2 linked regions of the Homo sapiens genome follow. The protein of the gene in region 2 interacts with the protein of the main gene of each other region in a pairwise test. Each region holds a gene or a part of one and is shown on either strand. Other genes may lie near its edges.

Region 1 (2,999 bases), on a different chromosome or scaffold from region 2:
TCTCGAACTCCTGACCTCATGATCTGCCACCCCTCGGCCTCCCAATGTGCTGGGATTACAGGCGTGAGCCACCGTGTCCAGCCCACCCTGTTGTTTTCTCATCATCTGTAGCACACCCCGCATGCCTGGACCCTGGATCCCACCCAAGGTTCTGGCACCTTGTAAGGACTTGTTGGTCAGCACCCTTGCCCTGGACCCCTCCTTCTGCCCTGGGGTGACCCCCACCTGCCAGCAGTGGCATCATGGCTACTTTTGCTCCATCCCAGGGGGGCAGGGGACAAGAATAGAGCAGGAGTGTCCAGGATGGCTCAGGATCTCAGCCCACATGCAGATTCCCTGGGCCCCTTGGGAGGAGCTACTCTGAGCCCAGGCCTTACAAGGGAAATTACTGGGCTGCAGCTGCTGTTGGGATCTGTGGAGCTAACATGGGATAAGAGTTTGGCCAACAGGGAGGGGCCTGGGTGTGACCTGAATGTCTCCTTACCCTAGCCTTGGCTTCTCTGGCACATCTGTTGGAAATGGTGACCTGCCAGCCACTGTGCCTTCCCTGGAAGCCTTCCACACCTGTCCTTGAGGCTCCCCATGGCCCAGAGCATGTGTCAGGGCCAGGGCTGAGGCTGTGTGAGAATCCTGCAGAATGTTCCCAGTTTGGCTTTACAAATTTGGACTCGCTCCATACTCCCAGTCTCCACAAGGGGCTCCAGTGAGCAGAAGGGCCAAGCTCACTGTGCTCATGCTGGGGAGGGGCACAAAGACCCAAGTACAGGAAGGAAGGCAGTGGAGGGGAGAGGCAAATCACACAGACCCAGGAGGTTAGTTTTGCTCAAAATGCTCCGTTTATTGCTCTATTCAATGACCACGAGCGAATTATAAAAAGACACCAAATGTCTCTGTCTGCCGTGGGATAAATATTTAAAGTCAGCAATAAAAACACGTGGCTCCAAGATAATACATGTTGCCAAAGAGTCATGCATGCCCTCCTGATGGGCTCTCAACACACGCATGGACATGGGAACACACGCAGAGCAACACGCAGTGAGACTTCTGGGAAGGCTTTCCCACAGTGACACAGAAAAATGTCTCACGTAGATCTGGGCTGAGTCCCCACCCAAACCTTGAGCTCCCCTCCCCTCCCCAACAGGGCCTAGATCCTCTGGGTTCTCCATGCCCCATCTGCCCCCTACCTTGCCAGTGCCTCACAGGCTGGGCACCCTCCTGAGAGCATCTGACACCCAGAGGCCACCCTGGCTGTGATGCCCACTCCAACCTAGAGAACTCTCCCTCAGCTGAAAGCTCTCTGGTGACCTTCTGGAGCTCCCCATGCCTAACTCCCCGTCATCTGCCTTTTGGGAGAAGTGCGGGTGAGGCCGAGGCAGGCAAGTCCGGTTGCTTAGGGGCTGGAGCTCATTACCCCTTCCTGGCTGAGGAGACACAGTGTCCGGTACAGAGGGCAGAGATGGATGGACAGACAGAACACATTGCAGCAGGACACAAAGTGTAGCACGGAAACATTCTGGATCAGGTATTGATGGAACCATCGTTAAAAACTGGAGCCCGGGGTCTGCGTGGTGTGGGTCAGGCCCCGGGGCCCCAGGCCTGGCCTGGCATGTCCCTTCCCGACCCTGCCCCCCACTCCCCAATATGTACAGTAGGAAGAGCAATGCTGGAGGGTAGGGGTCAGGCCAGGCTGACAGAGGACAGAGGGAGCTGACTGAAGGGGAGGAAGCGGGGAGCAGGCCCAGGACCCGAGGCAGGGCCCTGGGTGAGGGCCGAGACTCAGGCTGGGCAGTGCCCAGAGAACCTTGTAGGAGAAGCGCAGTCATTCTGGGGACTGGTGGGACAGCTGCTTTTCGTAGAGGCTCATGACGTGGTGCACAAACTGGTACTGCTCGCATGTCTGGATCATGCCGCCCCTGCCCGGCAGAGATGCACAGTGGGGGCAGGGTCGTGGAGGGATGGGCTGTGGGAGGTGCCCCAAAAGCCATGGAGTAGCAATCACTTGCCAGGCCTTGCCCCTGTGCGTCTTGGAGAGACCAACCCTTGCCAACCATTACCCTCTGCCCCTTCCTATCAGGGACACAGATGACATGTCCTACCACTTTCGGCCTCTGTCCTTTTATCCACCAGCTCTGCTTTTCTTCCCTCTTCATCTGGCCCCCCACTGTCTGGATCCTGCCCCTCTACCCAGCTGTCCTCGCTACTCCTTGTCTGCCCATCAGTCCGTGCCAGTGTTTTCCATCTGCCCCTCACCCCCCGCCCATGCACATGTGGGTCTCTCCCTCTACCCGCTCGGGGCTCTAGCTCCCTTGTGTGTCCCCACTCCCGCCCGTGGGCTGACCTGTCCTGACGGAGCTGGCACGTGGTCTTCAGGATGTCCACCACACCCTCCTGCCGCAGCTGCTGGCAGCAGATGCTGGTGGCAATGAAGCAGCCGGTCCTCCCAATCCCTGCACTGAGGGCCGAGGGGACCGGTGGGGTGAGGGGCAGGGCAGCCCAGCGGGTGGGGGGCTGCCCCGCTCCAGTGGCTGGCTGGGAGGACCCACCTGCAGTGGACGATGATGGGGGCACAGTGGGGCCCCTCCTGCTGGGCTGCCTCCTCCACCTCCCGCACCAGGTGCAGGAGTGGGGGGGCCCGGTCTGGGGTCTTCTGGTCGGGCCAGGATGTGAACCAGTAATGCTTCAGGCCTCGCTCCTCAGTCCCACTCTGTCGAGGAGACAGAGGCCCACCCCAGGTATGTGTGAACTCTTTCAGCTCACAAACCAGCCCAGAGATAGAGATGAGATGGAAGGAGGAAGAACACAGGAAGAACACTGAGAGTGGGACCCCTTCACCCTTCCATCTAGGCCACATTGCCCAGTGGCACCAGACACAGACCCAAAGCCAGCTTGGTTTTGGGGGTTGGTCAGCAGCGTTGGCATGGATCTTGCCTTTGGTCCTGCCCCAACAACTTCAGGATCATCCAAGAGGGGCCAAGAGCCCCTTCTCCAATTTATTACTA
Region 2 (3,813 bases):
CGAAGGCCCTAGATGGGGTTTGCTGGAAGGCAGGGTGGGATCGGCAGGAGATGGGGCCAGCAGAAGGCCTTGGGGCTTCTTCCTGAGGGACATGGAAGCTGCTGGAGGGTTGGAGCAGGTGCTGATATGATTATGTCAGCATGAGGAGAGCAGCTGGTGGGCCTAAAGGCTGACACACGTGTCTTTGCAGTACCTGCTCCACTACCTGGTTTCCCTCCAGAACTGGCTGAACCGCCACAGCTGGCAGCGGACCCCTGTTGCCGTCACCGCCTGGGCCCTGCTGCGGGACAGCTACCATGGGGCGCTGTGCCTCCGCTTCCAGGCCCAGCACATCGCCGTGGCGGTGCTCTACCTGGCCCTGCAGGTCTACGGAGTTGAGGTGCCCGCCGAGGTCGAGGCTGAGAAGCCGTGGTGGCAGGTGAGGTGGCTGCTTGGCACACTGGACGTGCCCCCTTTCCCTCTGGAAGTCTCTGTATTGCAGTGCTCACCAAATTCTATTAATTATCCATGAAGAAAGATACGGGCTGCTGGGGAACATGGAAGCTCGAAAGTACCCTGTTGCGATGGCCTGGGACAGGCTCTCCCCCTCGGCACAGTTGCCATTTAGGGGTCCCGGATGTCGAACAGGAGTGCTGGCCTCCACCGACGTCGCCGGTGTCCCGGGAGGAGGGTTGCCCCAGCGGAGAACCGCTTTTACTGAATTGAGTGGGAACTTGACTGTGATCACAGGTTACTAAACCTGGCTTCCCATCAGAAACATCTGGGGTGCTTTATGGAGAGGGCTGGATGGCTAGGTAGGTGACAGCTAGCTGGCTAGTTGACAGACACCTGGATGGATAGGGGAGAGAGCTGATGGGCAGGGTGGCGGGTGATTGATAGGTATTAATAGGTAGATCATGGAGGGTAGATGGTGGAACTCTGTAGGCCTGTGCATAGGACAGCTTTCCAGGTGGCTGGTGCTGTTCTGCATAGAGGTAGCCCTGCCTCTCTTCCCTGGCCCGTGTGCCTTGTGGAAGACCACAGCATTTGCTGATTTTTGCGTGTTTATTGTGTAATCTCGTATCCCCAGTCAGCTGTGAGTGCCTGAGGCTGGGCATCTCTTCCCCAGTCTCCCGCGCCTCCCTGGCACCAAAGCGGGTGCTCATGTGTCTTTGAACCCATGCACCCATGTTCCCAGTCTCAAGCCGGAAGCACCCTGTCCCCAAGGCAGTGTGCAGGTGGTGCAGGGCCATCTGTGTAGACAGTGTTGCCCCACGCTCGGGCTGCTCAGGGACTTTCACATAATGTGGCTGCCTCGTGCTCAGGGTTGGACTCTGGGGGGGGCAAACACCCTCTGGGGACATCTGGTGGGTGTGGCCCTGGCCCTGGGCTGCCTGGCTATGCTGCATCTGTCTTCCTTTCTGCTCTGTCTTCTGCGCTTGCTCGTAAACCTCACCTGGTGTGGCAGTACCACCTGCGTCCCATGCTCAGCCCCTCCCAGAGGAGTGCGAGCCCAGGTAACCCTGCACAGCCAGGAAGCAGCTCTACCAGCAAGTTGTTTGCTGGCGGCCCAGACTCACCCAGTCATCGTTCAGACTGGGAAGAAGTTACCCTTTGTGGGGTGTGGAACTTCTGTTCAGCCAGCTCTTCTTAAAGGCTCTGCTAAACTTGACCTGACCTTTGCCTCCCAGCTCGGGGCTGTGCACCAGAAGCTTCCGGAATCCAGGTGCCTCCTGTGGGCTGGCGGGGTGCGAGGGCCTGATCCCCCATGATGAGTGAGATCCTGGGAGGCCTCACCCACCCGGGTGCTGCAGAGCTCACGGCCTGGCTTTTGAAACCCTTTCTTCCTTGTGTGCTCTCGGCTGCCACTTCTTACGGTGACTCCTGTCACTTATCTGCCACGGGCTCAGCATGGCAGCTTGATGTGCTTCCCTGGAGAAGCCTGCCTGCACTCTGACTTGCCAGATGAGCAGGGACAGTAGCGGGGTCAGAAATGATGCAGGTCGTCACGCAATGCTGCTGAAACTTCCACGTCCAGAGCCACACCGAGTGCCCTCCATCCCCTTGTTCCTGAGCAGAAGGAGAACCTGCCTCTTTCCAGCCACTGCTGCTTTTTGTCTTATAAGCAGATGGACTGCCCTCAAAAAGGCAGAGTCCCCAGAGGCCAGCAGTGTCTCCTCCTAGGACTTGGGTCTGTGTCTCTTCTGCTGTCAGGTGCCCCAGGGTTGCCACCTGTTCTGGACTGTTACATTTAATTGTGGTGACATAGACATCACCTAAATTGTACCACGTTCACCATTTTTAAGTGTGCGGCCCAGGGACGGAAGCACATTCACGGTGCTGTGCAGCCATCACCACCATCCAGCCGCAGAAATTGTTCATCTTCCCAAACTGAAGCTCTGGCCCCGTTCAACCCCAACTCCCCACCCCCAAGCTCCTGGCACCCAACCTTCCACTGTCCTCTACAGAGTTCACGGCTCTCCTTTGAGGCCCCTCACAGGAGTGGAATCCTACAGTGCGGGCCTTTCTGTGACTGGCTTCTTTTGCTGAGCACAATGTTGGAGCCCCCGTCTCAGAATGTCCTTTCTTTTGATGGCTGAATCATATTTCATGGCCTGCATGGACCATATGATATTAACATATTCATCCATCGATGGATGCAGGCTGCTTCCACGTTTTGGCCTTGCTTTTTTTTTTTTTTTTTTTTTTTTTTAATAGAGACAGAGTCTCACTCTATTGCCCAGGCTGGAGTACAGTGGCGCAATCTCAGCTTACTACAGCCTCCACCTCCTTGGTTCAAGTGATTGTCCTGCCTCAGTCTCCTAAGTAACTGGGATTACAAGTGCCTGCCACCACACCTGGCTAATTTTTGTATTTTTAGTAGAGACGGGGTTTCACCATGTTGGCCAGGCTGATCTTGAACTCGTGACCTCCAGTGATCCACCCGCCTCGGCCTCCCAAAGTGCTGGGATTACAAGCGTGAGCCACTATGCCCAGCCCCTGAATGTTTTTTAATGATTGCTTCTGAGCTTGGGGTCTCCAGGAGCACACAGGTCATGGACCCCAGCAAGCAAGTGTGCATTTCTGAAGTATTTGTTTTTCACCCAGAGCCCAGGGTAAGACAGCTATGCTTCCTGAGTCAGGACTTGGAGGGCGTCCAGGTCACCATCTCCTACCTGAGGTTGTAGGCCACAGAGGAACCTAGGGTTCTTTGGGAGCATTCAGCAGGGGTGGACGTAGGTCCAGTTCTTGCCTTGACTTGGCCCAAGGCCTTGATCTGATTGGTACATTGGTTCCCCAGGCAGCAAGCTCTGGCACAGGGTGGCTACAGACGCAGCATCTGACCAAGGTCTTGCTGCTTTACTTACTATTTCCCTTATCATTGGGGATCCCGAAGAGCACCCTGGGGCTCAGTGCTGTGCCGGGAGGGCTCGGAACTCAGAAAAGCTGTCACACTCCCAGTTCCGGTTTATTACAAGGAAAGGACACAGGTTACCGTGAGCGAAGGCTCAGGGCGCACAGGGCGGGCTCCAGGAGAGACCAGGCGTGAGCTTCAGCGGCTCCTCGCCCAGGGGAGTTGTGCAGACGGCACCTGTTTCTTTCGGCAACAGTGTGGGACAGCGAGCACGGAGTCACAACCGGGAAGCTCATCCCAGCCATGGCGGCCAGGGTTTCCGTGGGAGGTGGTGGGCTGCATGGGCATGGAGCGCCTGCGTGGCCAACCCTGGTCACTTGGGCTGCAGCCACCAGAGATCTGGCTGGGACTCTGTGGCCCAAGGCCCTCACCATAAATGATGTGGTTAGCACAGACCGCCTGGCAGTCCAGTAAACCAA

Evidence for each region.
Region 1: the proteins of CCNQ (region 2) and PTPN5 interact in a two-hybrid assay, tested with the Homo sapiens proteins (one large-scale study listed by BioGRID and IntAct).

The regions. Positions count from the first base shown.
Region 1 is NC_000011.10:18,727,115-18,730,113, forward strand, and holds the end of PTPN5 (tyrosine-protein phosphatase non-receptor type 5), read right to left. Parts: intron 2,705-2,999; coding exon 2,544-2,704; intron 2,453-2,543; coding exon 2,339-2,452; intron 1,914-2,338; coding exon 1,820-1,913; coding exon of another isoform or gene 1,197-1,819; 3' UTR 814-1,196; downstream 1-813. UniProt on the Homo sapiens protein: May regulate the activity of several effector molecules involved in synaptic plasticity and neuronal cell survival, including MAPKs, Src family kinases and NMDA receptors.
Region 2 is NC_000023.11:153,589,111-153,592,923, reverse strand, and holds part of CCNQ (cyclin-Q), read left to right. Parts: intron 1-190; coding exon 191-418; intron 419-3,813. UniProt on the Homo sapiens protein: Activating cyclin for the cyclin-associated kinase CDK10.